Linked DNA regions of Homo sapiens. The protein of the gene in region 2 purifies or fractionates together with the protein of the main gene of each other region. This does not show direct contact. Each region holds a gene or a part of one and is shown on either strand. Other genes may lie near its edges.

Evidence for each region.
Region 1: the proteins of DCAF4L2 (region 2) and CLUH purify together in Homo sapiens (affinity purification with mass spectrometry; 4 studies listed by BioGRID and IntAct, with this or other methods). This does not show direct contact.
Region 3: the proteins of DCAF4L2 (region 2) and CCT6B purify together in Homo sapiens (affinity purification with mass spectrometry; 2 studies listed by BioGRID and IntAct, with this or other methods). This does not show direct contact.
Region 4: the proteins of DCAF4L2 (region 2) and CUL4B purify together in Homo sapiens (affinity purification with mass spectrometry; 4 studies listed by BioGRID and IntAct, with this or other methods). This does not show direct contact.

The regions. Positions count from the first base shown.
Region 1 is NC_000017.11:2,708,388-2,716,842, forward strand, and holds the start of CLUH (clustered mitochondria protein homolog), read right to left. Parts: upstream 3,378-8,455; 5' UTR 3,275-3,377; coding exon 3,175-3,274; intron 2,867-3,174; exon of another isoform or gene 2,666-2,866; intron 130-2,665; exon of another isoform or gene 112-129; intron 1-111. UniProt on the Homo sapiens protein: mRNA-binding protein involved in proper cytoplasmic distribution of mitochondria.
Region 2 is NC_000008.11:87,870,802-87,879,253, reverse strand, and holds the start of DCAF4L2 (DDB1- and CUL4-associated factor 4-like protein 2), read left to right. Parts: upstream 1-5,238; 5' UTR 5,239-5,282; coding exon 5,283-6,470; 3' UTR 6,471-8,452.
Region 3 is NC_000017.11:34,958,033-34,965,823, forward strand, and holds the start of CCT6B (T-complex protein 1 subunit zeta-2), read right to left. Parts: upstream 3,429-7,791; 5' UTR 3,362-3,428; coding exon 3,225-3,361; intron 1,619-3,224; coding exon 1,555-1,618; intron 663-1,554; coding exon 528-662; intron 1-527. Other genes in the region: ZNF830 (zinc finger protein 830), read left to right, coding at 3,535-4,653. UniProt on the Homo sapiens protein: Component of the chaperonin-containing T-complex (TRiC), a molecular chaperone complex that assists the folding of proteins upon ATP hydrolysis.
Region 4 is NC_000023.11:120,549,987-120,557,962, reverse strand, and holds part of CUL4B (cullin-4B), read left to right. Parts: coding exon 1-39; intron 40-7,976.

The DNA.
Region 1 (8,455 bases), on a different chromosome or scaffold from region 2:
GACCCCAGAGAAGTGTTGACAACCACCTGCACTCTGATTACCACAGAGCCAGGACTCACGCTAGGCCCAGCCCACGGCAGCTCCCTAAACCGCCGTGCCAGCCCATCTCACCTGAGGAAACTGAGGCTCCAGAAGGCTAGGAAGCAGCTGCCCAAGGTCACAGAGGCAAGAGGAGCCAACCCAGAGCAAGAAAAAACCAGGTGTTACTATCACATTTGGGATTAAGTTTAAAAAAAAAAGGAAAGAAAAAACAGGAGTGTCAGACGCCCAAGCCCATGGCTTTTGAGTCACTCCCACTGAGCGCGGGCTACCCACCCGCTCCCACCGACCTGCTCCCGCCGACCCGCTCCCATGGACCCGCTCCCACTGACCCACTCCCACTCAGCGCAGCCCACCCACCCCCTCCCGAGGGGCCCGGCAGCACCCACAGGTAGGCTGCACCTGCCTCCTCGTCCAGGCCTCAGCCTCTACTCGGGGGGGGGGGAGCAGAACTATCCCAGTCACAGCACTCCCCAAGGCCTCTACACCCTTGGGCCAATACTCCCTCCTCTCATAGTCCAGGAGCACCTCTGAGGATGTGAGCTTTAGGGGAGGGGAAAAGGAGGTCTTCTGCAGAGCGGGAGAGCCGTGCCCCAACAGCACTCTGCATACACGCAAACTCAGATGCTAGTGAAGAGACAAAGCACACCCTTGCCCCGGCCTGGAGGCGCCGGGAGCTCAAAGGCGGCAGAGAGGAGGAACTAGAAAAGAAACTTAGGCCTCCCAGAGGACCTGTGTGCTGCCCAAGCCAGGCACAATCTCACTCAGAAGACTGTGCCAGGGCCAGGCCACGCCCCAGCCAAGGCCTCAGCAAGTGAGGCTCCAGCAGGAAGTAGGGTCCGAAAAGGTGCATCACCCGTCCCGGGAGCCCAGGGCTTCAGGGAAAGGCAATGGGGCGGGCAGGCGGCCTATGGAAGAACCTACAGACCAGGCACCTGTTTGCCTCCTTCCTGTCCCACCCAGGCCAGAGGCAGGCGTTCAGGGCCTGAGGACAGTTCAGAGTTCCTCAGGCTGCTCTCCCCACATCCCATCCAAGATCCTGTTGCGGAGCTCCCATAAGCCCCTAGACTCCTTCCCCAGCTGCCAGCCTCCTCCTCCTCCCCCTCTGGGCCTCAACTCCAGGGAGCCCTCCCCTGGGCAGAAGGAACCTGACGCACCACTGTGGACCTGAAAAACCTGCCTGTTCTCTTAACCCCTAAAAGCCGCTGTATTCCCAGGAAGGTAACCAACCCTTGCCCCCGACCCTCAATGGCCTAGATCAGCTCCTTCCTAAGGGGGCTGAAGAGCCTTCCAGAGCTGGATCTCAGAGGTCAGAAGCCTTGGTTCTGATGCTCAGGTGGGCCCCAGCTGGGGGGTCTTCATTAAGGCTCCTTCCTTCTTTCAATAGATCCGGGCTGGCTGTAACGTAAGTCCTAGCTAGCTGTACTACCTTCCCAGGGACGTAGGAGCCCATGTCCTGCCCACGAGTATGCTCCCAGTTTCCCCAAAACAAATAGCTGTGCCCTTCCCTGACTCAGTTTACCCCCGACAGAGCCCCCCCACCCCCAGCAGAGTTAGGAAGGGGCTTCACTGACTCCCTCACAGAAATCCTCCAACAGACGCTCGTCAGCCCCCTAGTTCTCAGCACGGGATCCAAACCAACACGCCTGTCCCAGCTTCCTCTGGGCCAGGCCACGGCAGCCTTGGCTTGCTGGCCATGAGCTGGAATCCAAACACTTCCCTTAACAGCTAAATCGCTGTGTGACCTTGGGCAAGTCACTTCGACTCTTCGGGTCTCTGCTAGAGGGGAAATCAGCCAACCTCCTCTCATCCAGCCTGCCCCCACTGATTCAGAGCCACATCAGCACAAAGCCTGGTAGGTTGGGGCGATGAGCATCTGCTCTTCTGCCCAAACCTTGGCCTTGTCTAGACAATCAGCAGTACTGCCCCAGCACCTGTCCCTCACCCCAAGGCAACTCCGCTATGATGGGAACAGGGTCAGAGGGCTGAACGCTGTCCCCATCCTGATTCCCAAGTCAGCCCTGGCGCACTCACTGAAGCTAGGAAGGGAGATGATGAGGCGTTAAGACCACAAGTCCCAACTGAGGACAGTCGACGGAGGAGGGAGGGACTGGGGGACAGGAGTAGCTCTGCACCTCCACTGCCACCCAGAGCAAAGAGGGCCTGAGGAAGATGACGACTGAGGGCCTGGGAAGGGGATTCCAGCCCCAAGGCTGGAGTCTGAGACACGGTGGAGGGAACAGAAGGAAGAGAAGGGGCTCAGGAGAAAGGGAAAGCAGGCCCCACCCGAGACAAGCTGCAGCCACTGCCACAGTCACCACCATACAGCCCCCATGGGGGATCGCTGGGAGCTTGACTCCACACTAACGACCTTTGCCTTAAAAACAGCAACTCTGGTCTGACCCACTTTTCGCAATAAGGCAGGTTAATGATCAAGTTCTGGCACAAACACTTCCCCCTGCCAAGGAGTTTGGCTCTGCCCCATGCAAAGGCAGACGCCCCCTACACCAGGTCGGCCGAGCAGGCCAACACACCTGAGAGTCTCCGCCACAGCCTGAAGACCTGCGGTTATAGCCTGGCCTCAGGGCATGAACCAGGGACGCCCCTCACAACGCACACCCCGCACCTCGTGCTCTTCCCACAAACCAAGCCTGGGAAGCCTCGAGCGGAGCTTCACTCCCAGGGCTGCAGCCCTGCGCACAGGGGATGCCTGGGAGGCCGCCGCGGAGCAGGTGCCGAAGGGGGCTGTCCCGCAAACGTCGGAGCGACCCCAGCTCAGAGAGCTCCCATGCTCGGGCGCAGAGGGGGTGGGGCCGCCGATTCTTTCGGTCTGCGGCGGCGGCGCACCCCGAAACCGCGTGTGCGCGCACGTGTCCCCGCGATGAGGCGCGCGTGTGCCCGCCGAGGGTGCCAGCCGAGGCTGCCCTCCACGGGACCGCACGTGCGAAACCCGGGCCGCAGCCGGGGGCGACTGTGAAGGTGACCTTCAGCGCGGGGGCGACCCGGTGAAGGCCCCAGCGAGATACAACCGGGCCCGACGCGGAGGGAAGGCGGCGATCCCCGCGGAGTCCCGAACCCGCCCGCCCTGGTCCGGCGCCCCCCGCCCAGCGGCCCGCTGGCCCTGGCCCCGCTCACCGGCCGCGCCCGGCCGCCCCTTGCCCCCGGCCTGCGAGCCGTGTTCCCGGGCGCTGTCGGCCGGGGCGGCCGCCGGCAACTCGTCCGTCTTGATAACCATGGTGGCGGGAGCGGGCGTCCGCCTCGGCTGTCCGCGCCGCCCGCCGCGCCACTAACCCAAGTGCCCTGCGCGCCGCGGCTGCTGAGGGAAGGACGGAGTCACCGGCCCACGTGGTGCGCGCCGTGGCCTTTGACCCCGCCGCCGTTTCCCTGCCCCACCCTCGCGCCCGGCCCAGCCCACGGCGGCCCGCGAGGGACAAAACGCGCCGCGCCTGGTTCCCCGCCCACGGACGCGGTGACTTTCCAGAACGTCTTAAAGGCAACGCACTCTGACTCAAGGCCCAGGGAGGCTGGGCGCCCTCGCGGGGCGGGGCCTCGGGGAGACTCCCTGCTGCTCGCTGCCCGTCGGGCGGGCACTGTGACCTTGGGTGGAGACTGGTCTGGTTCTGCCATGGCTAATCCTCCCCTCTCCAAGGATCCCCTGTTTTCTCTTGCAGATTTGCTAAATGACCGCGCAGTCTGTCATCTGCGGTGTTCGCGTGACCCTCAGCGCCCTCCCCACCCGGCAGGCCCTTTCCCGCCGAATGGGTGCGGCTGGATTATTGAGGGAGTGGAGGGTCGCTTAGGGCACGGGCACGAGAGGCGAGGGCGAGACGTGGCTAATGGGGATCAAGAGTCAGAATGGACCCGCCAAACTTTGCCCCGAGCCAGAACGGGCTCCCTACCCGCGTCCTCGACCCATGGGTCCTCACCTCCAGGCTGGTGTCCTCATTTTACAGTGGAGGAGGCCGAGACCAAGGTCACACAGAGAGCAAGGGGTAGAGCCGGGTCTGACTCCATCCACAGCCAGGACGCTTTAACTCGTATTTTTCACTTGGCAGGGGCTTGGCGGGGACGGAACGGTGAGGTCAGAGAATGCTGCAGAGGGGACATTGGGACCAGGTCTTGCAGTGAGTTGAAGTGCTCCAGGCAGAGAGCGCCGGTGGGTCTTTCCTGGCCAGGCCGCAGGGGGCCTTTGGGAAGCACCCGAGGCCTATAACCTTCGGAGCGTTTGTCAAGCTCTAATGAGAACTGGAAAGCTTCAGCTTCCCGAGGTGGGCTGGGAGGGCCTTAGGTAGGGCCTCGCACAAATTGCGAAGGAAAGCCGACCTTGTTCTGGAGAGCACGTGGTGAGGAAAGCCAGCGACTTGATGTGAGCATTTAAACGGGAGGAAGGAAGATGAGAACTGGTAAGATTCTTCTCGGCCGGGCGGTGCAGCGGCTCACGCCTGTAATCCTAGCACTTTGGGAGGCCGAAGCCAGGCGGATGACTTGAGTTCAGGATTCGGAAGTTTGAGACCAACCTGGGCAACATTTCAAAACCCCCGTCTCTACAAAAAATATTGTTTAAAAAAAGCCAGGTGTAGTGGCACGCGCCTGTAGTCCCAGCTACTTGGGAGCTGAGCTGGGAGTATCACTCAGGACGGCTCAGATTGAGCCCAGGAGTTCCAAGCTGCAGTGAGCTATGATCGCACCACTGCACTCCTGCCTGGGTGACACAGACACCGTCTCAAAAAAAAAAAAAAAAAAAAAGCCGGGCGCGGTGGCTCACGCCTGTAATTCCAGCACTTTGGGAGGCAGAGGCGGGCGGATCACGAGGTCAGGAATTAGAGACCAGCCTGGCCAAGATGGTGAAACCCCGTCTCTACTAAAAATACAAAAATTAGCTGCGCATGGTGGTGTGCGCCTGTAGTCCCAGCTACTCGGGTGGCTGAGGCAGAAGAATCGCTTGAACCCAGGAGGTGGAGGTTGCGGTGAGCCGAGATCGCGCCATTGCACTCCAGCTTGGGCAACAAGAGAGAAACTCCGTCTCAAAAAAAGAAAAAAAAAGTGTGCATATATATATATAGTGTGTGTATATATATATAGTGTGTATATATAGTGTGTATATATATAGTGTGTGTATATATATAGTGTGTATATATATAAGTGTATATATAAAATATATATATTTATAATCAATATATATAAAAGTGTGTATATATGTGTGTATATATACACATACATACTTATGTGTGCGTGTGTATATACGTATGTGTATACACACACTCGTTCCTCTTTTGTTACACAAATGTGCAGAAAATTGTACCTGCTATTCTTCACTCTGATTTTTTTTTTACACGCTTTCAGTAGGTGTTCTCATTCCATTTACGCTGGATAATGTTGTATTGTTTGGTTGTACCATAATTCTTTTAGCCGGTCACCTGACTGATGGGTACTTAGTTTGTATTCATGAAACTCCAGGGTTTTTGAGAATTGTGCCTAGTGGCCCAGTGCAGCTGAAGTTGGAAGCCCGTGCATGTTGCTAATGCTACTCATAATAGGAAGCTCAGTTTTAACCCTGGGGGTTGGGGAAGAGCAGCAAGCCTGGGGTTAGAGAAACAGACACGTATAAAAAGCATCATCCAGCCGAGTGCGGCGGCTCACGCCTGTAATGCCAACACTTTGAGAGGCCGAGGAGAGCAGATTGTATGAGCTCAGGAGTTGGACACCAGCCTGGGCAATATGGCAAAACCTCATCTCTACAAAAAATACAAAAATTAGCTGGGTGTGGTGGTGTGCGCCTATAGTCCCTGCTACTCAGGAGGCTGAGGTAGGAGGATCACTTGAGCCCAAGAGGTTGAGGCTGCAGGATCTCGCCACTGCACTCCAGCCTGGGCGACAGAGCAAGACCCTGTCTCAAAAAAAAAAAGAAAGCAAAGAAAGAAAAGAAAAGAAAAAAAAATCATCCTCTGATCACATTCTCCATAGTCTGGTGGTCTGACCTCTGACCACACATTAAGCAGACTGATTCTTGCTTTCACACAGCTTCCACCAAAGTCTTTTCATCATAGTCTTTTTTTGGGACAGCATCTCGCTGTGTAGCTCACGTTGGAGAACAGTGGCAAGATCTCAGCTCATTGCAACCCCGCCTCCCGGGTTCAAGCGATTCTCCTGCCTCAGCCTCCCTTGTAGCTGGGACTACAGGCGCCCGCCACCATGCCCGACTAATTTTTGTATTTTTAGTAGAGAGGGGGTTTCACCATGTTGGCCAGGCTGGTCTTGAACTCCTGACCTCAGGTGACCTGCCCACCTTGGCCTCCCATAGTGCTGGGATTACAGGCGTGAGCCACCGCACCCGGCCTCCATCATAGTCTTAACAGCACATACTCCCATTTTCCCCAGCTATTTCCACCATTGCCTATAACAATGTGCTATGGTTAAGGTGATCGCATAGTTTATCATTAAAACCAGAACACTTTTGAGAGTGCAAGTGGAACCTATTAATAATGACACAGGGGCAATAGGCATAAATTGAGACCCTCTTGGCCATACTGGGATGTCTGGGTCTTGGGTGAGGAGTCCAGCTGCTAGACCCGGGGACTTTGTTATTTTTTATTTTTTTTTGATATGGAGTCTTGCTCTGTCGCCCAGGCTGGAGTGCAGTGACGTGATCTCAGCTCATTGCAACCTCTACCTCCCGGATTCAAGTGATTCCCTGCCTCAGCCTCCCAAGTAGTTGGGATTACAGGCATGCGTCACCATGCCCGGCTCATTTTTGTATTTTTAGTAGAGATGGGGTTTCACCATGTTGGTCAGGCTGGCCTCGAACTTCTGACCTCGTGATCCGCCCGCCTTGGCCTCCCAAAGTGCTGGGATTACAGGCATGAGCCACCGCGCCTGGCCGACCTGGGGACTTCTTGAAGGCAAGAACCATAACTTATTTATCTGGGTGTTCCCAGCATCTTTCCAGAGCCCAATGCATGGTAGGTGTTTAATGCACATTTATTTATTTTTAATTTTATTTTTAGAGACAGGGTCTCATTCTGTTGCCCAGGCTGGAGTGCAGTGGCATGATCACGGCTCACGGAAGCCTCCAACTTATGGGCTCAAGTGACCCTCCCGTCTCAGTTCCCTGAGTAGCTGGGATTACAGGTGCACACGACCATACCCCACTTAATGCACATTTGTTGACTGAGTGAATGATTTCAGTGTAGAAGGTGCCAGGCCCTGAGGGCTCCACAGGATGTGGGGGGGCAGCATTGCTGGCAGCCTGGGGTTTCACCTTTGAGCCCCCCATTATTTATTTATTTATTTATTTTTTGAGACGGAGTTTTGCTCTTGTTGCCCAGGTTGGAGTGCAATGGCTCAATCTTGGCTGACCACAACCTCTGCCTCCCAGGTTCAAGCAATTCTCCTGCCTCAGCCTCCCCAGTAGCTGGGATTACAGGCATGCGCCACCAGGCCTGGCAAATTTTGTATTTTTAGTAGAGATGGGTTTTAGTAGGGTTTTAGTAGAGTTTAGTAGGGTTTTAGTAGAGATGGGTTTAGTAGAGGTGGTTTCTCTATGTCGGTCAGGCTGGTCTCGAACACCCGACCTCAGGTGGTCTGCCGCCTTGGCCTCCCAAAGTGCTGGGATTACAGGCGTGAGCCACTGTGCCTGGCTGAGTCCCCCATTATTTATAACAGTTGGCTTTCCTTTCAGACACTCCTTTTGTGTACTGTATGCTTTGACCTTTGTGTCTAGAACTTCAGATCATTTCCATAATGCCTGACTGAGACCCACCAGCCTGAGCCCACGGAGGATGCCAAGCGGAGGCACCTCTCCCTATCCTCCTCAGGGTCAGTGAGCGTCCGTAAGTGCCTACCGGTCAGCATGGGGATCGGTGACCAGTTTGTCCATGGGCCTAGTGACGAACCAGTCCCAGCAGCTTTAGAATCTGCAGTTTAAGGCCGGGCGCAGTGGCTCACGCCTGTAATACCAGCACTTTGGGGGCCAAGGCAGGTGGATCACCTGAGGTCAGGAGTTCAAGACCAGCCTGGACAACATGGCAAAACCCTGTCTCTACTAAAACTACAAAAATTAACCTGGTGAGGTGGCGGGTGCCTGTAATCCCAGCTACTTGGGAGCTGAGGGAGGAGAATCACTTGAACCCAGGAGGCGGAGGTTGCAGTGAGCCAAGATCATGCCACTGCACTCTAGCCTAGGTGACAGAGCAAGACTCCGCCTCAAAAAACAAAAACAAACAAATAAAATAATCTGCAGTTTATCTTTGGTGGATCCCTTCCCCTTTCCCTCGCAGGGTCCTGTTGCACAGCAGGCGTCCTTAGGGCTACCTCATGGCACTCCTGAGCACTGCAGTTTTCCTATCTTTTGGGTCCCTGCATAAAGATAAGGAGGAGGGTTATCTAGTCTGAGACCCAGCCTGCATAATTAGCCCGC
Region 2 (8,452 bases):
CTTTTTAGCTAACAATGTAGTGAGATATTATAATCCCAATTTTCAAGATGAGAAAACCAAGCAAGGCACATAGAAATTTACTTGTGTTATGTTTTACCAATACTAAATGACAGATGTAGAATTCAAAATTGAGTCTCTTGATTCAAAATTAAATCTCTTTTCTTCTGGACAGGCGCAGTGGCTCATGCCTGTAATCTCAGCACTTTGGGAGGCTGAGGCAGGAGGATCACCTGAAGTCAGGAGTTCAAGACCAGCCTGGCCAACATGGTGAAATGCCATCTCTACTAAAAATACAAAAATTAGCTGGGCATGGTGGCAGGCACCTGTAATCCCAGCTACTCTGGAGGCTGCAGCAGGAGAATCGCTTGAACCCGGGAGGCAGACGTTGCAGTGAGCTGAGGTGGTGCCACTGAACTCCAGCCTGGGCAACAGAGTGAGACGCCATCTGAAAAAAAAAAAATTCTCTTTCTTCTAGGTCACAGTGATTCATATTTTGACCAAAAATCAAGTATAGACAATAAGAGCAATTTTAGTATACTCAAGATGAGAAAAAGAATTCTAGATTGAGTAAAATATTCAAGGGTTATTTAGTCAATATACAAAATGTGTACATTCTGGTGCATATATTTAATGCTGCCAAAATATAATCTCAATCTAAGCTTTCGATATATTCAACTCTTCATGTTATGTTTTTTGGCTAAATGAAGGCAGTCACTCACACAGGATTTTATATTTATCTTATGAATTACCTTTCTTCTTTTGGGCTTTAGGTGTATGCTTATAAATTTTTATTTATGTGTTTATATGAACATACTCATTGATATTAATATAACAAAAATGCTATCCATCTGCTAGAATTATATTAAAAGAAAGTACATTATGTGAGAAAGAGAACAATGAAATGTAAGTTTGGACTTAAGTTTTATTAGAAAAGGACATTTCTTCAAAGACAGTTCAAACTGTATCTCAGGATAAAGGACACAGCTGAAAGCTCATATATCTATGCTGTAACAGGACAGCCCGCTTAAAGCAATTTGATGCTCATTCAGTACATTCAAATGAGTTTTTAAGATTATGAAGCCTGCCTTGTCTTGCCAAGGATAAATGAATGGCGGGCTACTCAAGCAACTGTGTTGTTTCATATAAGGATTATCATCCCTTCTCCTAAATTATTAGCTTATAAAATTGAAGACAGTGTTTTGGCAGAAATTAAGTGAGGTTCCAGGTTTTTTTTTCCCTGCAGCCTGACTGATAATACAATTAAAACCACCTTTAACACTCAGAACACCTCATTAAAAATAAACATCATAATTAAGTAAATATCTAGATTTTAAAAGATCTATGCTTTTCTGGTTTCAGTATTAAGTAGAAAAAATTTATAAAGGGATTCTGATGTTCCTCAATGATATTTTCAAATATTAATGACTCTGCTGTCCATAATTCTTCAGAAGATATTGTTAGTCTCCTCATACCCTATAAACATTTTATATTTGTGCTTTATACCAAGATAAGAAAAATACTTTTCTCTTATATGCCCTCTAATTGCTAGCAATCACTGACCTTTTTACTACCTCCATAGTTTCTCCATTTACAGAATGTCATGTAGTTGGAATCTTACAGTATTTAGCCTTTTCAGATTGGCTTCTTTCACTTGGTAATATTCATTTAACTTTTCTCCATGTCTTTTCATGGTTTCATAACTCATTTATTTTTAGTGCTGAATAATATTCCATTGCCTGGATGTACTACTGTTATTTATCCTTCCATCTACTGAAGGACATCTTGTTTGCTTCTAAGTTTTGGCAATTATGAATAAAGTTGCTGTAAACATCCGTGTGGATGTTTTTGTGTGAATACAAATTTTCAATTCCTTTGGGTAAATATGAAGGAGCATGATTGCTGGATCATATGGTGAGAATATGTTTAGTTTTCTAAGAAACTGCCAAACTGTTTTCCAAGGTGGCTGTACCATTTTATATCCTTACCAGCAATGAGAGTTTGCGTTACTCCATATTATCACCATTTTTTTTTTTTTGCCATTCCAAAAGTTATGTGGGTGTGTCTGTTTGGTTTTTAGAAATCTCCATTTCTTCTTCAAATATTTCCACATCCAAAATCTATTTTTTGGAATGACAAAATATATAGTAAATCAAAATCAAAGGTGGCGAGGGACAAAAGACTATACACTGGGGACAGTGTACACTGCTCAGATGATGGGTGCACCAAAATTCCAGAAATCACCGCTAAAGAACTTATTCATGTAACCAAACACCACCTGTTCCCCCAAAACTATTGAAATAAAAAAATAAAAAATTTACAAGAAAAAAATATATTTAATGGTTAAGGCTTTTACTTCTACTTCTTGATACCCTACCTGGGGATTCTACAAATCCTAAGAATATATGGTAGTTCTCAGATATTATTAATACAAATTGTTATCATTAAAAAAAAATCTCAATTTCTTCTTCAAATATTTCCACATCCAAAGTCTATTTTTTTGGAATGATGCAATATACAGTACATCAAAATCAAAGCTGTAAGAAAATGATTATAATTTTTAATCACATATTTAAGTCTAAGATAAGGGCTCTGGTGTCAAGTGGTCTCAAGCTTTTAGAGTACAGCTAACCATGCAGTTAACTATAGGCAGTCAATCACAGGAGCCATAAGAGCTCTCAATAGCCAAAGCTGGAACAATTTTAGCAAATAAATAAATGAAGTATAAAATAAATATTCAAGAGGCCATACTATATAAATAAATGGATAGATTAATAAAGACACACCTAGAAAAATCTCCCTTATAGAATAATTCCTAATAATTGATGTGCATGTTCTGCCCTCAAGAAACTAAAGCATAAATCCCTACTCCTAAAGTGATAGATATGCAAAGCTACTTCCTTTCAAAGGGTACAGTATGAAAAGAGAGGGAGATGTTTACAGCATACAGTGGAGAAACCCAAGAAACACTACCTTATTCAGGTGACCAAAGTTAACATCAATGACAATAAGTCATGTCCATAGTCTGCACCCTTAATGGGATGGCATTTTCCTCTGTTGTCTTCTTCCAAAAACATAAAATCCCAGTGTTAATATGGGAAAAACATCAGACAACTCTCTATTGAGAGACATCTATAAGATATGTGACCAATATGCCTCAATGCTGTCATGTATATAAAAAGTAAGGAAAATCTAAGAAAAGGTCATGGCCAAGAGAAGCACAAGGGAACATAATTAATATTATATCATGGATGGGATCCTTGAACAGGAACAGGCCACTGGATAAAAACTAAGGAAATATGAATAAAATATGGACTTCAGTTAATAAAGTATCAATATTGGTTTATTAGTGCAATGTATTTATCATTCTAGCGTAAAATGTTAATAATATGGAAACTGGGTGCAGAGTATGTGGGAAGGCTCTATACTATCTTTGTAATTTCCCTGTAAATCTAAGACTGTTCAAGAATTTTTAAAGGGGTTAGTTAAAACATTAAATTGCCTAGACACTCACATTCAAAGGTAAAAATTATTATACTGGATAAAAACTTACCAGCAATGTATTGTTTATATGAACCCATTTACATAATAGAACAAATTTAAGTTGAAAGTAAAAGGTGAGAAAAGGTACAGCAAACACTATCAACCAGAAATCTTGGTTGCATATATAAATATTAGACAAGAAGGGTTTAAGGATAAGGATACTTTAATATCAGAGAACACAGATTTAAAAAAATTAAAGTTGGGCCAGGCGCGGTGGCTCAAGCCTGTAATCCCAGCACTTTGGGAGGCTGAGGCGGGTGTATCACCAGATCAGGAGATCGAGACCATTCTGGCTAAGATGGTGAAACCCCATCTCTACCAAAAATACAAAAAAATTAGCCGGGCATGGTGGCGGAGCCTGTAGTCCCAGCTACTTGGGAGGCTGAGGCAGGAGAATGGCCTGAACCCGGGAGGTGGAGCTTGCAGCGAGCTGAGATAGAGCCATTGCACTCCAGCCTGGGTGACGAGCGAGACTCCGTCTCAAAAAATAAAATAAAGTAAAATAAAATAAAATAAAATAAAATAAAATAAATAAAAGTTGGTCGGGCGCAGTGGCTCATGCCTGTAATCCCAGCACTTTGGGAGGCCAAGGCAGGTGGATCACAAGGTCAGGATATCAAGACCATCCTGGCTAACATGGTGAAACTCCATCCCTACTAAAAATACAAAAAATTAGCCAGGCATGGTGGCAGGCGCCTGTAGTCTCAGCTACTCAGGAGGCTGAGGCAGGAGAATGGCGTGAACCCGGGAGGCGGAGCTTGCAGTGAATCGAGATCACGCCACTGCAGTCCAGCCTGGGCGACAGAGCGCGACTCCATCTCACAAAAATAAAATAAAGTCAATCAATAAATAAAAGTTAAAAAGGAATATTTTATAATAATAATGGCAATCTTTCAACAGGAAGACAAAAACAATTATAAATTATTTATATCTAAAATGTAAACTGACCAACAAGAATTGGCAAGGATATATATACACTTTTGACAAGAGTGTAATTGGTTTGTCAATATCTACTTAAGCCATATTTTGACAAGAGTGTAATTGGTTTGTCAATATCTACTTAAGCTATATATGTCTACCTAATAACCCTCCACTTTCAAATTTTTTTTTTTTGAGACGGTGTCTCCCTTTGTCGCCCAGGCTGAAGTGCAGTGGGGCTATCTCGGCTCACTGCAACCTTCGCCTCCTGCGTTCAAGCGATTCTTCTGCTTTAGCCTCCCGAGTAGCTGGGACTACAGGCGCGCGCCACCATGCCCGGCTCATTTTTGTATTTTTAGTAGAGACAGGGTTTCACCATATTGGCCAGGCTGGTCTCGAACTCCTGACCTCGTAATACGCCCACCTCGGCCTCCCAAAGTGCTGGGCCAATTTCACTTCTTAGTAAATAAGAGAAATGTATGCATACAGCTATTATGACGTGTGTAAGAGGGGTCGGAAAAGAATCTCTAAACAGGAATAGAAATGAATAAAAGCAGCTGTCTGAGTAGGGGAAAACTCGAGAGAAGCAGCGGAACTCTTGTTTCAGATCACGCGATTCTAACGAGAGTTATGTCAGGGCACCTCAGAGCATTCGGGATTTGGGCCAAGGCGACGAAGAATCTCGTCCGGGTCGACCTCATACGCACAGGCGCAGGCGCAGCGGGAAGTTCTTCCGTGCCAAGTCGTGCTTGTAAAGAAGCGGTACTTCCTCTTACTCCCGGGACAGAACTTCCCCTCAGGAGGGAGAACATCCGCCGAACGAAATGGAGAGCAAAAGACCGCGACTGCTCGAGGAAGCAGACAAGCAGAAAAAGACAGTCAGAGTGGGACTCAATGCACCTTCCATGCTACGAAAGAACCAGCTAGGTTTCCTCAGATTCGCCAACTATTGCCGTATAGCTCGCGAGCTGCGTGTAAGCTGCATGCAGAGGAAAAAGGTCCAGATTCATAGCTGGGATCCCTCCTCTTTGGCAAGCGACCGATTTAACCGCATACTGGCGAATACCAACACTGACCAGCTCTTCACAGTGAACCAAGTCGAAGCTGGAGGCTCCAAGTACGGCATCATCACCATGCGAGGCCTGACGACCCCTGAGCTCCGGGTATACCCGCACAAAACCCTCTACGTCCCTAATCGGAAGGTGAATTCTATGTGCTGGGCCTCACTGAATCACTTGGATTCCCACCTTCTGCTGTGCTTCGTGGGACTTGCAGATACTCCAAGCTGTGCCGTGCTGCTCCCAGCGTCGCTGTTCATAGGTAGCTTCCCAGGAATGCGTCGGCCTGGCATGCTTTGCAGTTTCCAGATCCCTGATGCCTGGTCCTGTGCCTGGTCCCTGAGCATCCACGCGTATCACTCTTTCAGTACAGGCTTGTCTCAGCAGGTCCTGTTGACCAACGTGGTGACGGGACACCAGCAGTCATTTGGGACTAGCAGTGATGTCTTGGCCCAGCAGTTTGCAATCATGACTCCTTTGCTGTTTAATGGCTGTCGCTCTGGGGAGATCTTTGGCATTGATCTGCGCTGTGGAAATCAAGGCAGCGGGTGGAAGGCCATTTGCCTGTCCCATGATTCAGCAGTGACTTCTCTGCAAATCCTCCAAGATGGCCAATTCCTGGTGTCATCAGACATGACTGGAACTATCAAGCTGTGGGACTTGAGGGCCACTAAATGTGTAACACAGTACGAAGGTCATGTGAATAACTCCGCCTACCTACCCGTGCATGTGAACGAAGAAGAAGGAGTCGTGGCGGCCGTGGGCCAGGACTGCTACACGAGAATCTGGAGCCTCCGTCATGGCCACCTGCTCACAACCATACCCTCCCCATACCCCGCCTCGGAGAACGACATTCCCAGTGTGGCCTTCTCTTCTCGCCTCGGGGGCTTCCGAGGAGCACCAGGGCTGCTCATGGCTGTCCGGGAGGACCTTTATTGTTTCTCCTACGGTTAATTCTTCAGGATGCAGCCCGGAGGAACGTGGATTTGACTTAAAGAAGTAAAGAGCATCGTATTACCGTTTCTATGAGCGCATTTTAAGAGATGTTCGGTGTTTGTAGATCCCATCCATCCGGCTGCTAGGGGTAAGGTGCTGTTTTATGTGAAGATAGTTCTGTAAAGTTGTTTCAGTTAAACTGGGCTGAGAGAGCTTGAAAGTCCTTTTCATAAAAGATAACTATTTCCTTTTCTTGTTGAATACCTTAGAATAGTTATCCCCCCCTTTTTTTTTTTTTTTAACAAAAAAACACTTTTCTAAGGACTGAAGATTGGCAAAAACTAAAATAAATTAAAACTGCTTACACCAGAAGCCTTTTAGAGAAGCATGAGACTGTTTGACTAGTCCTACCTGGGTTCCGGAAATACATGCATCATCTGTACTTGAAGAGGCCAGTGGGAGAGGAGAGGAGGGGGAGGTCATTTATCTGAGTCTCTCCAGAAGTTTTTAAGGCTACATTTTGGAATCATTAAACTTGGCCTTCTCAAACTCAATAGCAGATCTCTGAGATTCTCCTTTTATTATTTTCCATAGGCAATGGGAGGAAAGGTGGATCTTTTTAAATAATAGAAGTTTTAAACAGTCCTTAACGTGCTTTTGTTGAGGCATCTTCCAGAATGTAAGGTACAGCAGCTCCGGTTTCTATTATTGTGACTTGAATGTCAGGATTCAAGGGCTCAGTGTCAAAGATAATTGGCTTTGACTTTTTGTAATCTAGGAGCAGCAGTTTGTGAGATGTTTATTCAAAGTGTTAGCCTGTTTTTCTACCAACAATAAGCTAGAAAAGACAAAAAAAACAAAAAACAAAAAAACGTGTAATAAAGTTAGTGGCTACTTCTTAATAGCCAAAGCCTGGAAATGATCTCACTTTACAATATGCTAAAATTGATAAATAATTTGTGCTGTAGTCATACAATTGGATAAAGCATAATATAAAATAAGGCACAATTGCTATATGAAACTGTGGATTAATCTCAACATGTTGATTGTAAATGTAGGTAGAAATGAGTACAAACTGATTCAGTTCTAAAGTTCCAAAGCACTAAAAACTTATCTATGGTGATTACAGTTTGAATAGTAGGTATCTCTGTGGAAGGAAGAAAGGATATTGTTTGTTTTTTTCCCTTTTATTTTTAGGATATTGTTTGGAAAGTAACACGGGGAAACTTTAGAAATGCTGTTTTCTTTTTCTTGATCCTTGATACATACATATTTTGTATGTCTATACACTTCACACTTTATATAATACCTCAAAAATAAAAATATGAAAACAGTACACTGTTGTAGGTTGGTCAGGAAAGGGAATGATTGTGGCTTGGACCTGACTATGAGAAGTAGAAATAATCAGAAAAATCAGAAATGATTGCATTGGAAGATCATTCGAAGGTAGTATTAGTAAGATTTGCTGATGAGAGTAATCTAGAAAGTGAAAGACAGCATAAAGATTGCAGCTTTTTTGTTAACTTTAGGACTGGTGGATGGTTGGTGTCATTTACTAAAATGGGGAGGATTTGAGGTGAAAAAATTTTAGGTGAAGAGAATAATGCTGAGTTTTAGGCAACTATTAAAATGTCCATTCTGTAGATTAGAGGTGATGTCAGGACATAAATGAGGTTAATGTAATATTACATATTGATAGAGGAATAGGTCAATAGAGAAGATACAAAAGAGTGGTTAGGTGCATAGATTTTTGAAATCAGTTAAATTAGTTTTTGATACTTGATGTGTGACAGGGGAAACTGTGTAAGCTGTACTTGTTATTTCTTTGTAAAATGTCTTAGATAATAAAACTAAATCATAAAGTAGATATTGGTTTAAAGGATGTATACATTGTCCCTTTTACATTGTAAGCATTCAATAAGAACTAGCTGCGGATGTAATTTTTTTTAAAAAAGTCCAAAAGCAGCTATGGGCAGTTGACAAAAGAAAATGTAATGACT
Region 3 (7,791 bases), on a different chromosome or scaffold from region 2:
GTCCGTTAAATATTTCATTTTTAAAAGAGGTATATAATTCCAACGAAAGGCATTATTTTGGCCAACAAAGTTCATTATTATTTCCATTTATAATTGTCCAAGAATATCTTAATTAAAATTAACTGTCTAGACCAGGCACGGTGGCTCATGCCTGTAATCCCAGCACTCTGGGAGGCCCAGGCAGGTGGATCACCTGAGGTCAGGAGCTCAAGACCAGGCTGGCCATGATGGTGAAACCCTGTCTCTAAAAAAAATACAAACATTAGCCAGGCATGATGGCGCATGCCTGTAATCCCAGCTACTCGGGAAGCTGAAGCAGGAGAATTGATTGAACCTGGGAGGCGGAGGTTGCAGTGAGCCAAGATTCTGCCACTGCACTCCAGCCTGGGCGACACAGTGAGACTCCATCTCAAAATTAATTAATTAATTAATTAAAACAAAATTAACTGTCTAAAACTCAACCATTTTACTAGTTAAAAAAATAATTTGCCATTCAAAATAACATATAAACTGTGAAATTCTAATACCTCAGAAATGTACAGGTCAGCTTGTTTTAATAACTCTCCAATAATTAGAACATTTGAAGTAGTACCATCTCCTGTGACGTCATCCTGAGCTGTTGCTACTTTTGCTATCAAGGAAGCTGTTGGATGTTGAATTTGCTGGAAAAAGCAAGCAACAGATTTAAAAAGACAGGATGAGATAAGGAAGTAGGTCACCAAAAGCAAGATAACCTAGGGGTCAGTAGCAAAATTAAAAAATGAAATAAGCTTCATTCTACAAGTTTACAAGTTTTGTATTATCAATACCTAAATGTCAAGTCCAAAATTTTAAAAGTGACAGGTAATGAGGCCTGAACATTTCATAAAAGTCTTTGCTTCAGAATGCAATGACATTTCTAAAATAAGATTAAATCATTCAATCTCAAAATGAATACATGTATTAAACTTGCAAAGGATATTTTTATTTTTCCATAATTACAAAGAACATAAGGCAGTGCCCTTAAAAGATATTATTGATTTATAAGTATGCCTAAGTATACAAAGTATGTATAAGTATACAAAGACTTGGAAACAGCCAAAAAAAAAAACTTTTTTTTTTTTTTTTTTTGAGACAGGGTTTCACTCTGCCACTCAGGCTGGAGTGCAATGGCACAATCTCATTCACTGCAGCCTTGGCCTCCTGGGCTCAAGTGATCCTCTCACCTCAGCCTCCAGAGTAGCTGGGACTATAGGCGTATGTCACCACACTGAGCAAAATTTTTTTTTTTTTTTTTTTTTGTAGAGACGGTTTTCACCATGTTGCCCAGCCTGGTCTTGAACTCCTGGGCTCAAGCAATTTGGCCACCTCAGCCTCCCAAAGTGTTGGGATTACAGGAGTGAGCTACCACACCCGGCCAAAAAAATTTTTTTATTGAGGTCTAATTCAACAGTCTTCAGCATATCTCAAGACTGCAGTATTTAGCTCACAGCCTTGGCTTAAAGATACACAAGTTCTACTATGCTTCTAATTAAGGCTTATTAAGGTTTATTAAAGTCAGCAGCATCAGCTCACCATCTCATCGAGCAGCACATTGCCATCTTTGGTGAGTTTGATGTCACCTGCACCAGAAACAAGCCTGTTCAGAGAAGAATGATATTAACTTCATGTGGTAGGAAGACATTCCCAGTGCTTGCCACTCCATTATCCTTAATAGAGGGAACTGGGCTCGGAAAACTTCCACTGTACCATGGGAATATGCCATGGTAATTACCACCATTTGCAGCTCACAGAATCATTTCTCCCCAGATGGACAGATTATGGAGATTTCATTCCAAATGGACTATTTACAGGTTTAAAGATAAAAGCACTTGATGAGTTACGAACTGTGGTTTGGTCAAAGAATACTTGGAAGTCTACAAAGCACAAATTCGCAAATTTCCTGCAGGTTTTAATTTTGGTGAATGTTTTCATTCATTCAGTCACTCAACTTAGTTTCCCTCATCCCTGCATTTATTAGATCACCAAGTTCTATCAATTCTACTACCTAAATATCTCTTGAATCTGCCACCTTCTCTCCATCTCCACTGTTATCATCTCTACTTTGGATGGCATCCGGATATCTCCAAACTTAAATATACCCTCCACACATTTTTCTTTCTAAAAGGCAACGTGATTCAGTCAGTTCCCTGATCAAAAGTCCTCCAATGATTTTTATGTTTTCCATCATTTTCAAGTTAAAATCCAAACACAGCAATGACATACTTGACCTTTCCCAATATCTTCCCTGCCTCATCTACTTTTCCACAAGCAAATCTTCTGGTTCCCTTAATATACCATGTTTTGTTTCGTTTCTGTTGGATTTGCACCATTGGTCTTTCTTATTCCTGAAATTACTTTGCCCAGGCCTTTACTCCCTCTTCCAACTAGTGAAGTCTTATTCTTCTTTCAAGACTGATCAAACATGTTACTTAAGATGCTTTTCCTTCTGCCATCAGTCCCTTTCTTCAGCATAATTATATGCATCTATATATAATTAGCACATCCTACTCTACCACATCCGTCTCTACCACATCTCCTTAAGAACAGAAACCGTTATCTTGATCATTTCTGTGTCCCAACAACTGGTACCTAAGTGACTTATTTTACCATTAATATTATTTTGTTCATTACTATGAGGATGTGTCTCTCCTCTTATACCCTTTTGCCCTCACTGGTCTCTTTTCCTCACTCTTGTCTATAGAAAAGGGTGCTTAATATATACTGAAAAGATGAATAGATCTGAACAACCATAGACACGGGGTATTCAAGTAGAACTTGGATTTGACCCCATGCCTTCCTGGCTCCAAAGCCTGTGTCCTCTCCACTACAATACATTGCCATACAAAAAACAAAACTACTTGTTGAATTTATGGACCAAGGGTATACAGTCTTAAGGAGCAGAGGAGTTAAATGCTTTGTTTCCAATGAGACACTAAATTAACTGACTTTCTAACTGCATATGAACCTTGACGACAAGTCGGGGGTCGGGGAAGCGCCACAGCTTCACTCCCGGGGCCCTCTACTAGGGGAGGCTTTTCTCCTCCACCTGCACCAGGCGAGAAATACCCCCAGAGCAGGGATGAGAATGAGGGAAATCAAGCTCGCAAGAACATCCACAGCGCTACGCGGACGCCTGCCTCAGAGGGCGACAGGACACCAACGGGCCCCTAGCCGCGTAATGGCCGCTCCAACCGCTGTCTCACATTTTCATGGTGCCTTTAGGACCCAAGTTGGTCCGCAGCACATCCTGCAGCCCTCGGGCGGCGCATATATTGACAGCCAAAGCTGCCCGGGCCCGCGCCACCTCAGCCTTGGAGTTGACGGCCTTTATCGCAGCCATAGCCTAACCGTTCAGAGGGAGAAAAAAAAAAAGCCTTAGTCGCGATTCTGAGCAAAAACGGCAATGCGACGCCACGCTCTCTTGAGCCTCGGCCAATCATCGCCCTTACAGGAAGTGACGTTATCATGCCTCGCCCGACGGAAACCAGAATCGTTTTGGGTCTGGTCGCCAAGATGGCGTCCTCCGCCTCCGCCCGGACTCCGGCAGGGAAGCGAGTGATAAATCAGGAAGAATTGCGGCGGTTAATGAAGGAGAAGCAGCGTCTGAGCACCAGTCGGAAACGGATAGAATCTCCATTCGCGAAGTACAACCGTTTGGGGCAGCTGAGTTGTGCCCTGTGTAACACTCCGGTTAAGAGCGAGCTCCTGTGGCAGACTCACGTCCTGGGAAAGCAGCACCGAGAGAAAGTGGCCGAGCTGAAAGGCGCGAAGGAAGCCAGCCAGGGTTCGTCCGCCAGTTCAGCGCCTCATTCCGTCAAGAGGAAAGCGCCGGACGCAGACGACCAAGATGTCAAGAGAGCGAAGGCCACCTTGGTGCCTCAGGTACAGCCCTCCACATCTGCGTGGACCACCAACTTTGACAAAATAGGAAAGGAGTTCATTAGAGCGACTCCCAGTAAGCCTTCAGGACTCAGTTTACTCCCCGATTATGAAGATGAGGAGGAGGAGGAAGAGGAGGAGGAAGGAGATGGAGAAAGAAAAAGGGGGGACGCCAGCAAGCCGCTCTCCGACGCACAGGGCAAGGAGCACTCAGTTTCCTCTTCACGGGAGGTAACAAGTAGTGTGCTGCCAAACGATTTCTTTAGTACTAATCCTCCCAAGGCCCCCATAATTCCTCATTCAGGGTCAATTGAGAAAGCAGAAATACATGAAAAAGTGGTGGAAAGGAGAGAAAACACCGCGGAAGCGTTACCGGAAGGTTTTTTTGACGACCCTGAGGTAGATGCAAGAGTACGAAAGGTTGATGCTCCAAAAGATCAGATGGACAAAGAGTGGGACGAATTCCAAAAAGCCATGAGGCAGGTCAACACTATTTCCGAAGCCATAGTTGCCGAAGAGGATGAGGAGGGACGGTTGGACCGCCAGATTGGGGAGATCGATGAGCAGATAGAGTGTTACCGACGGGTGGAAAAGCTACGGAATCGCCAGGATGAAATAAAAAATAAACTTAAAGAAATCCTGACCATAAAAGAACTGCAGAAAAAGGAAGAAGAGAATGCTGACAGCGATGATGAGGGGGAACTACAGGATTTGTTGTCTCAGGATTGGAGGGTGAAAGGGGCATTGTTATAGGGTTTTAAAGACCCAAGGTTTCTAACAGCCTCTGCTGTTGTATAAAAAGTGCTGTCTCTCAGTAGTATAGCGGTTACTTCATGCCTCAAGATTTGGGTACCTGGATTGCTAAACTGGATTGTTGAGATAAAATGAGCCAGTGAGCTACAGCACTTTGGAAAATTTGTGTAACATGTTTTTGAGGTAAAGTTGTTTTTGAAATTTCTGAAGTGTTATATACCAAAATGCCAACATTTCCACGACAGACTTAACTGTATAATTTCGTTGTAAAATCTGTAAGTTGTAAATATTGTACATAGTTAAATCTGTATTCTGTTTTGAATTTTTTTAATTAATAGAAAGACCAACCGGCAAACTTTCAGATGAATGCTTACTGTGGTATTTGGAATGTATGTATCTTCTGAACCCTACATCAAGTTGAAAAGGTTTGTTTTCTTGTTTCTTTGGTTTTTGTATGGTTTTTTAGAACACTTCATAAACACATAAGTCATTGTAGGTTAATCAGTTCTCTTAGTGTGCTTTATTTTAAAAACATAAGAAAACTATATGCCAAACATGACCAAACCAATGATGGTCAGATGTGGTTGCACATGAGAGTCACCTATGAAGCATTAAAATAATTAAAGTGTCTGAGGCCTTCCCCTTCAATAAATCTGGGATTGGGCCCAGGCAACTGTGTTTTTTAAGCACCCAGGTTATTCTAATATATGCCAGGGTTAGAGAGTAACTGCCCTAAATCCAGAACCCATTTATGTTTTTCAGGTTTTTTCTTTTTCTTTAAATAACACATTCCATAAATTTGCTGTTTCTTGAATGAAGGAAAAAATATTATCTTTTATTTATTTCATCCAGCCTTAAATTTTGTTATTTGGTGGTAAATTAGGGTTCCTTGTTTGCAGGTCCTATCTATTGTAGAAAGAATATTTAAGTTGTCTTTCCAGCAGTAACAATTGGCTCTTGCTGGTCATTGATAGTTTAAATCACTCCTTCCTTTAGAGATTGAGGTACTCAAATAGGAAAAGGGAATTAGCAGTGTTCTGGAGTTGAAATGCATACAGCATATTCAAATAAAAGTGAGCAATAATAATAATAGCTAAGACCTATATATTTCTTAGTATGGGCCAGGCATGGTTCTAAGTGCTTTACATATATTAACTCAATCTAGTTTCCCTAAAGTCTTTTTTTATGGAGAGGAGTACCAAGAGACAAGGTTTGAAAAGCCTTGAATGCTAAGTGAAAATTTTTGATGAAGTTCATATGAAAATGGAGGTTTTGAGCAAAGAATTACATCTGCAAAGAAGTATCATGGGACATTATTAACAGTATATAGAATGGAATGAACACGGAGGGTAGAAGGAAGCTAGGAGCTATTTGAAAACTATATTTTCAAAAGCAAGGTGACAAGACTGATTAGCTGAGGATTGGGAGAAAAGGAATAGAAGTGAAAGCATGTCATAGGAATAGCTAAATTCTTTTGTTGTTTGTTTTTTTTGTTTGTTTGTTTTGAGACGGAGTCTCGGTCTGTCGCCCAGTCTGGAGTGCAGTGGCGGAAACTCGGCTCACTGCAAGCTCCACCTCCCAGGTTCACGCCGTTCTCCTGCTTCAGCCTCGCGAGTAGCCGGGACTACAGGCACCCGCCACCACGCCAAGCTAATTTTTTGTATTTTTTAGTAGAGACGGGGTTTCACCGTGTTAGCCAGGATGGTCTCAATCTCCCGACCTCGTGATCTGCCCACCTCGGCCTCCCAAAGTGCTGGGATTACAGGCGTGAGCCACCACGCCCGGCCAGAATAGCTAAATTTTAGTGACTAGAAGTGGAAGAAGAAAAACAGGAGGGATAAGTATGGGATTCAAGATTTTGTTTGTATTTAGTGTCACTGCCTAAAAGGAGTTATCTAACACTTACTGAACAGTTGCTGTGTACCACAAATTATTATTAATAATTGTCCTGCTGCCTTTGGCAGTCTTCCTCCTTGAGCTGCTAGCTGATCAGTGATAGCAGCTTCTATTTGATGAGACACGGCTTGCTTGCCTCAAATGTGTGAACCCAGTGTTACTCAGAATTTTCCCTTCATTCATCACTATTACTCTAGCAAGAAAGTACAAATATGGGTTTGAATGGTGGGCCCAGTACTGCCTTGGCCAACAATCTAGTGGAGTACTGTCCACTAAAGATAAAATGCGACTGGGTGTGGTGGCTCATGCCTGTAATCCTAGCACTTTGGGAATCCGAGGCAGGTGGATCACTTGAGCTCAGAAGTTCAAGACCAGCCTGGGCAACATGGCAAAACCCCATCTCTACAAAAAATATAAACAAATAATCCAGGTGTGGCATTCACCTGTAGTCCCAGCTGCTTGGGATGCTGAGGTGGGAGGATCACCTGTGCCAGGGAAGGTGGCGGTTGCAGTGAGCTGTGATTGTGCCACTGCACTCCCTCATGGGTGACAGTGTGACCCTGTCTCAAAAAGTAAAAAAATAAAATATAATGCAAGCCATAGATAAATTTTACATTTTCTAGTAGCCAAAGTAAAAAGAAGTGAAAGTAGTTTTAATGTGTTTTATTTCATCTATGTCCAGAATATTAATGTTCCAATATGTAATATTTAAAGATTGATTATTTTTACTACATTTTTGAAATCTAGGTGTATCTAACAGCACATCTCAGTTTAGACTGGCCACACTTCAAGTACTCGATAGCCATATGTGACTAGTGGCTACTATAAAGAACAGCGTAGATCTAAAGAGTAAGGTATCCAGGTGAAAAGATAAACATGCTCAGGAGGTAGTGAGCATCCAATTTAACTAGAGCAGAGGGTTCAGTCCTGGCAACAGTGGGAATTATGATTGAAAAGGTAGATTAGGAACATGTGGAGGAGCTTGAATGCCAAGCTCTAAGGAATTTGAACTTTCTAAGTTAACAATTTATCCTTGTAAATTGAGTCCTTAATTGTAACACAGTCAAAGAAGTGCTTAAGAAGTGCCAGGTGTGTGTTACTACTCACGTGAACCCCCGTTGGGCTTTTAGGACGGCCAAAAAGCCCTCAAAATCTGATTCTCAATGCTCTGTATTCCGGAGCAGTAGAAATGGGGCCCTGACCATAATCAGTGCTCAAATGAATCCTTGTTGAATTTGAGGT
Region 4 (7,976 bases), on a different chromosome or scaffold from region 2:
AGTACTTCAATTAAGTACAATTTAGAAGAACTCTACCAGGTATGTATTAATATGCATAACCAGATTTGATTAACATAAATTGAGGTGGGATGTATATGGATTTTGCTTTCTGAAATAGGTTCTTAAGTAGACTTTTGGTTCCCTTCTAATTTTAGTTTCTCCATTAATTGATGAACTCTATAATTAGACCACGTATTCTCACATAAACCATGGGTACAGTCATACCAGTATAAGTTGTGCTTATATTTGACCCTCCTGATAAGAAATTACAGTTACGTGTACCTTGGTGTAATAGAAGTTCTACCTATAATGTAATCCTATAGCATGAATCCCAAAGATGATTTCTGGTGACATGTCATTCTATTGTGATAATTGTTTCTTAGTTGTGTTACCTACCCATAGGAAAGGCCTCAAGACATGCAGATATTATTCATATCCTTTATTCTACCTCCTTCTTAATAGTAGACTTTGCCATTTCTTTTTCTTGCTCTTTACATTTTTCTAATACCTGGGCTACAAGACGCACCTTAGCCCAGAAATGAGTAGCAGTTTGTAGTCCAGCAGCTTAGTCTGAGGTTCAGATTCTTTACTTAGCAAATGGGTCCTTACACTTAAATATAATTTTAAGGGCAGTTCCTAAGGGCAATCCCTTGCTACCAAGAAATTTTTCCCTACTGTGTATTTGACACACAACCAATTCAAGAAGTTACTTTCATTAGAGTGTCAGGGATTTGGTGTTAAAAGATACTTCAGGCCGGGCACGGTGGCTCACACCTGTAATCCCAGCACTTTGGGAGGCCAAGGCTGGCAGATCACCTGAGGTCAGGAGTTCGAGACCAGCCTGACCAACATGGAGAAACCCCGTCTCTACTAAAAATACAAAATTAGCCAGGCAATGTGGTGCATGCCTGTAATCCCAGCTACTCAGGAGGCTGAGGCAGGAGAATCGCTTGAACCCAGGAGGTAGAGGTTGCGGTGAGCCGAGATTGCACCATTGCACTCCAGCCTGGGCAACAAGAGTGAAACTCCATCTCAAAAAAAAAAAAAAATATATATATACTTCAGAGTACAATAGCTTGAATTTTTGTATTGATGAGTACCTTGTAAGAAATTATGTTGGTTTTATTTATCAGTATTTGTATATTTTAGTTGCAGAGCTAGTATGGTGATGGGTAAACCTGGATTAGGAGTCAGAAGATGGGTTTGGGATCTAGTTTTGACTGCTGTTACCCTCATAATCTTGGGCCAGGTACTAAAGCCCTCTCAGTTTTTTTTCCTGTTTTTTTAAGAGATAGGGGTCTTGCTATGTTGCCCAGGCTGGTCTTGAACTCCAGGGCTACAGCAGTCTTGTCACCTCAACCTCCCAAGGTGCTGAGATTACAGGCATGAGCTACCAAACCCAGCCGTCACTCTCAATTTAAATTTCCTCCTCTCTAAAGTAGAGGAAATAATAGTTTGCCCTACCTGTCTCACAAGGTTGCTGATAAGAATCAAATAAGATATTTGTGGAAAACGCCTCCAGGCACTATAATCTTACAAATATAAGATGGTATCACGAGTCAAACTTTTTTACAAGCCACATTATAGCTTCTTCACTTGTAGTATGACAATTGAGATCACCAGTTTCTGTTGCTGTGAAAATTAGTACACGCAAAATACTCAAATCAGTGCACAACACATAGTAATAATGCCGTGTAACATTATAAGCATTATAATGCTATGCAAATGTCGGCTAGTAGTTGTAGTACTAAGCTATTACTTAAGAATAAGCCCATTTCATATGGCTCTTTTGGCGTATTATATATGCGTCTCTTAAAATGTACAACAATAAAAGCCAAAATATGAAACTGACTTGGAAAGGCCTTAAGAGAGCATGTGGTCCAATATTTTTTCTTTGTGGTGTCCATGACAGCCTGCAAAGGGGATTCATCTCGTATTATCTCATATAAGCATTATGGAAACCCTTTCTGGGGTACGTAGGGTAGTAGTTACTATCCCCACTTTTTTTTTTTTTTTTTTTTGAGATGGAGTCTTGCTATGTCACTCAGGCTGGAGTGCAGTGGCGTGATCTCGGCTCACTGCAACCTCCACCTCCCGGGCTCAAGTGATCCTCTTGCCTCAGCTTCCCAAGTAGGTGGAATTACAGGCGCCTGCCACCACGCCCTGCTAGTTTTTGTATTTTTAGTAGAGACAGGGTTTCACCATGTTGGCCGGGCTGATCTCGAACTCCTGACCTCAAGTGATCCACCCGCCTCCACCTCCCAAGGTGCTGGGATTACAGGTGTGAGCCACCGCGCCTGGCCTATCCCCACTTTATTGATGAGGAGACTGAGTCTCAGAGAAGTTGAATAACCTGCCCAGAGTCACATATTGGCAGAGCAGGGGCAACTCAAACTGAGATGCTGGATTTCTAGTTCATTGCACTTTTACTCCTGTACCACCTCACTAATATACCCTGGTACTTTGAATACCACTGTAGTGCAGTGTTTGAAACAATTAAATTGTTTTACTTTAGGGAAAAAGCTCTTTATAATTTTAGTAGTATTTTTATCTGTGCATGCATAAGTGGTGTTTATTTGGATAGTATATGGTGTTTATTTGGATATGCTGGTATACAGCATATTTAATTTCAATAATATTTTATATATTCCATATTTGTAACAAATGTTTATTGTGGTTATTAATTAACCCTATTTACTTTACCTTGAATATTTTTCCAGAGCTTTTGATTTGAAAATACTTTTCCTGATACATTGATTCTGTTAAATCTTTTTCTTTCAAGAGCATAGAGCTTGCATCTCTTGTTTTTGTTTTCTTGTACTTCGTAAGTTTTACCTGCTGTTGTTCAGTTGCATTTCTTTAGCCTAGTCACAAGTCTTATAACTTCACTGTTTGCATTTTTCATAATACCTTACTGCTTTTGCTATAATGAATTCAAAAGCATTGGTTTTTAGCTCTTTTACTGTTTTTGACCTTAATTTTATAAATGTTCCTTTGGATTGTTCTCAGAAAGATTATTTTGAGATGTTCAAGTTCAAACAGGAGGATAAAGGAGGTAAAGCTATTTCATATAATCTGGACTTCAGGTGCTTGTTTGATTTTGACTCATTGAAACGTAATTAGAAGTACTCTCTCAATCTACCTGAGTGGGAAATAAAAACATAAGAAAAAGTACTCTTCTAAAATTGAAATAATGTGGAAATATGTAGTTATACAAAAGTTCTCCAAACCCCTGTCCCACCCTCTTTCTCTGAGGTAAACACTTACTGGCATATATCTGCTTAGAACTTACTTCTGCATGAAAAAACATTTTGCTTTAAAGCTTTAAGTATGGAAGTCCCTAGTGTGGGTTGCATGTACTGCCTACTAAGTTTTTAATTTCTATAAAAGAACATGCTGTTCTAAGTACACTTGCAGTAAGCAAACATTGTCTTTTTAAAGTAATTTTAAATTAGAATTGGACCTGAGTTTTAAAATTATCTTTCCTTGACAACCTTGAGATCCTGTGGGTGTGAGGCAGTGATTAATGTTTTCATTTGACTGTTTTGTTTGTTTGCGTGCTTGTTTTTAATTGACTGCAAATAAGACTGATTAAATGCACTGACTTTTGAGCTGTCCAGCCTGCCTTAGGTTACAAATCTGTCACTCATCATATAACTTTGGGCGAGTTACTTCTCTAAGTCTTGGTTTCCTCATTTACAAGATGGTGAGACTAACGGCTACCTATATGGTAGGGTTTTTTAGACGTAAATGAAATATTGCAAAAAAGTAATTATCACAGTTCCTGCTATATATTGGTATGTGTCATCAATGATAGTAGATATTTGAGTCTTTAGAAAAGAAATCTTTATTTTAAAATTACATTTTATTTTAGAGCTCTGAAGCCACACGATTTTAAATTCTAAATCTACACTGGGCCAGAGCAGCTGTCTGATAAATAGATTACATTCCAAATGTGCTTCAGTAGACACCATTAGCGAAATTGAAAAAATAATAGAAAAAGACAGGAACTCTCTAGGAACAGTGTCCCTCTACGCTTAAAAAGAATGTGTCTTGTTTTCACATGTGGTATCATACAGTTGGAATTTTGGTTTTGGTGTGAGTTTTTTTACTATTAATAAGTAATATTTTAAATAGGATTATTTTCATAATCCTATTATGAGCTCATGTTCTCAACTTTTGTATGAGTAGCCGCAGTGTTTTGTTTTGTTTTGTTTAAATAGAGATATGGGGGTCTTGCTATGTTGCCCAGGCTGTTCTCGAACTCCTGGCCTCAAGCAGTCATCCCGCCTTGGCCTCCCAAAGTGCCAGGCTTACAGGCATGAACCACCATGTCTGGCCTACTACAGTGTTTAAGATCAGCTACCTTTTTTGGAGATGCTGGAAGTTTGTACAGGAGCGTGTAACATTTATCTTTCCTATAAATCTCTAGCTATTTTTAAAGTCAAGCCTAGGCCATACTTCAATTCTGATGAAAATAATTTTATTTATTATTAATAATGGGAACTGTAGTTACCTTTTTGTGAAATAAACCTTAAATGATGAACCTTTCTATTAACGATTCATTTATAGAGTAGATGACCACAGGACTAGAATCAAATAGTATAGGTTATTATCAATTGTAAAATCTGGTTGCTTAAGCAGTCAGTGATTATTAAGAAAGCAGTTAGATTCTTAGCATTGTTGATGACTAGCTGTTGGAGTCTGTGTAACTTTTGTCACCCTGTTGATGTCTTAAAGCTTAGTCTATTATGTATTATGTATTTCTCTTTTTACTGAATCGTTAATCAGTACTATTGTTGCTGTTTTTTAAAATGTACAACTAAAATTCTACTCTTTGTTATTTTGAAATATACAATAGATTATTAAATAATAAAAAATTTTAAAATGTGCACTTACAAATTCTTAGTCCTTGATAATTTTCAGTCTTATTTAAGTCCTGTTTACTGGAAGTAAAAAGAAAAGGAGTTTAGGTTTCATTGTATAGTTGGTTTCCTTTAAACAGATTCTTAGTTTTTGAATACTTAGAGTATCTTAGCCATATTTACTTGACATAAAAAGAGAGATAATGTAGATCTTATTGCTATATCAGTTGTTGAATTTTTTGTTATGTGCTTTACTTACTATCTGTAAACATAGCTCGAAAACTAAGACTCCACTCCTTAGACCAGTGACCAGAGTTCAACACCCTGGTGGAAATTCAGTATCTTTTTTATTGTCTGTTGTTCAGTAAATATTTGCATATGTCATTTGCTACACGTTTATATATATTTTTTGACTGTGTTTTTTTTTCAGACACTTTTTTTTAGCTCATCCTTGTGAAGAAAGACACATTTTTTATGTATCCTGTGGATTTTGGAGGGGAAGGGCTGGGATTTGGAAGAATAAGGGTTAGAAGCTTGCTAGAATGCCTGTATTTTATACCTAAGTACCTTCAAAGGATTTAAGGCAGCATATTTACTGGTAATTAGTGGGAGCTTAAATAAAAAGATAGTTTTATTAAAAAGACTTGTAAGGCTGGGTGCGGTGGCTGACGCCTGAAATCCCAACACTTTGGGAGGCCAAGGTGGGCGGATCACCTGAGGTCAGGCATTCAAGACCAGCTTGGCCAACATGGTGAAACCCAGTCTCTACCAAAAATACAAAATTCAGCCAGGTGTGGTGGCACGTGTCTGTAATCCGAGCTACTGGGAAGGCTAAGGCATGAGAATCGGTTGAACCCAGGAGGCAGAGGTTGCAGTTATCTAGAATCTGTTTATTACAAATAGTTGTTTGTGAGGCAAGAGGTTACTTCCAGAGATTCCCAAAGTGTTTTATTAGTGTAAATAATAAATACGTAATGCATAATATGTAAAAATACATAAATAATACATAATATTTAAATAAAACAATGCATAATATGTAAAAATACATAAATAATAAATACATAATATTTAAAAGAATATATTTGTAAAAGTGCTTTTCAAAGATCTAGAGTAAAATAGAGCTTATCTCAAACACCTTCTTATTCCTGTTTCCATCCCAGCATGTAATAGGATGAAGAGTACTTAGTAAACAGTCATTCCTTGTTCAATCCATGACTGCTTACTGTGTCCAAAACTGGACTGATACCTTGGGGTTATGGAAAGCACTTAGTACTAGTAAGAGAGCATAAGTACCTACCCTAAGTTACTTATGTTCTAATAGGTTCATGAAATTAATAGTTCGTGACCAGCATTTTTTAAAAAGAAATGAAATAGCAAATATCAGAATGCATCACATAGAGTAATGATGTGTAGGTTCGTGAAGATTTTATTTTAGTTACATAAATTTATGTATGATGGATTGTGACATTAGATTTCCTACTGTGGCTTTGGGTCAAAACATTTTGGAAGCCACTGTTTTACAGACACCACTCCAAATCTTGCCTAAAGGTGAGAAAAGTAGAGTACTTGGATCAAAGGATGTGTGAAAGGTTATAATCGGGTGGCCAAGGTGGCTCATGCATGTAATCCAGCACTTTGGGAGGCTGAGGTGAACAGTTCACTTGAAGTCAGGAGTTCGAGACTAGCCTGGCCAACATGGTAAAACCCCATCTCTACTAAAAATGCAAAAAAACCTAGCTGAGTGTGGCGGCGCATGCTTGTAATCCCAGCTACTTGAGAGGCTGAAACAGGAGAACCACTGGAACCTGGAGGCAGAGGTTGCACTGAGCCAAGATTGCACCCCAATCTGGGCGACAGAGCAAGACTCCATCTAAAAAAAAAAGAAAAAAGAAAAGTTATAATCAGACATGAGATGAAAGTGGTAAGATTTGCCTTGAACACCATGCTAAAAAGTATGGTGGTGGGGAAGTTAGAAAGGCTTTTATTGGGGAAGGCAAGTATTTAAGTTTTTTGAATACCTGATATATTCCTCTGGTTCAAAGCCCCGAAAGTATTGCAGAGCATGTAGTGAGAAGTCTCACTTCCACCCCATCCTCCAGTCCCCTAGTTAGTTCTCTTTGTGACAGACATTATTAGTTTTTTGGGTATCTTTCCAGAGATGTTTTATATACGTAAAACGACTGTGTATGTTTTTATTTTGTTCCTTTTTTACATAAATGATAGCAGACCATGTACCGGATAGTTCTTTTTGTTTGTTTATTTATACCTATTACGAGATTGCTCCATCACAGTACAGGAAAAGCTTGATGGAAGGTTGTTGAGGAAGGAAAATGACTAGATCCGGTCTATAGGTTAAGCAGTCAAGGCTAAATTAGAAAAACAGAATGTTCCCTCCGAACTTGACCTCAAAACTCACCTTAGATGCTCCTGCCTTTCTTGCCTTAAAGTTCTTAAACCACCCTCCAGCCAAACACAGGTGAGACTCTGTGCTGTAAAGCCCAGCTTAATTCTCGATTTCTCACTATTTCCACTAACTTTTTATCTGTTTCCCTGTGGGTCTTTGGGACTCTGTCCCTTTACCTCTTCCCAGGAAGGCTTTTCTGACTTGCCCTCCCCTAAATGCTGGGTTAGGGGCCTCATCTCTCTGCTTATCCTCATCATAGCATCTAGCACACTCAATCGTAATTACACGTTTTCTGGCAACTTTTCTCATACTAGAAGCCCTTTCTATGTGCAGGACACATTGCTAGAGTTTTTTTTGAATACTTCATGTATTCACTTGGTTCAAAGCTCAAAAAGTATTAAAGAACTTATAGATAGATGAACACACAATGTCTTTCTGTCATTAAGGAGTCAGAGAGACAAGATATACACATAAAAAGATAAGTAGTTTTGTGTAAGAAGTGTCCAGTGGTTGGGAGATAAATAGTGTTGACTCAATGACTAAGTCAGTGTGGTATGATGGGTGCGAGTGCCATGTGAGTCACTGGTAGCTGAGTCAATTAAGAAGAACTTATTGGAAGAAGTGGGACCTAATTGAGTAGTAAGGGAATATGGTATCTTGTGTGAGAAGATAAGTAGATGTGCCGAGAACTGTTTTATTTGAGAAGG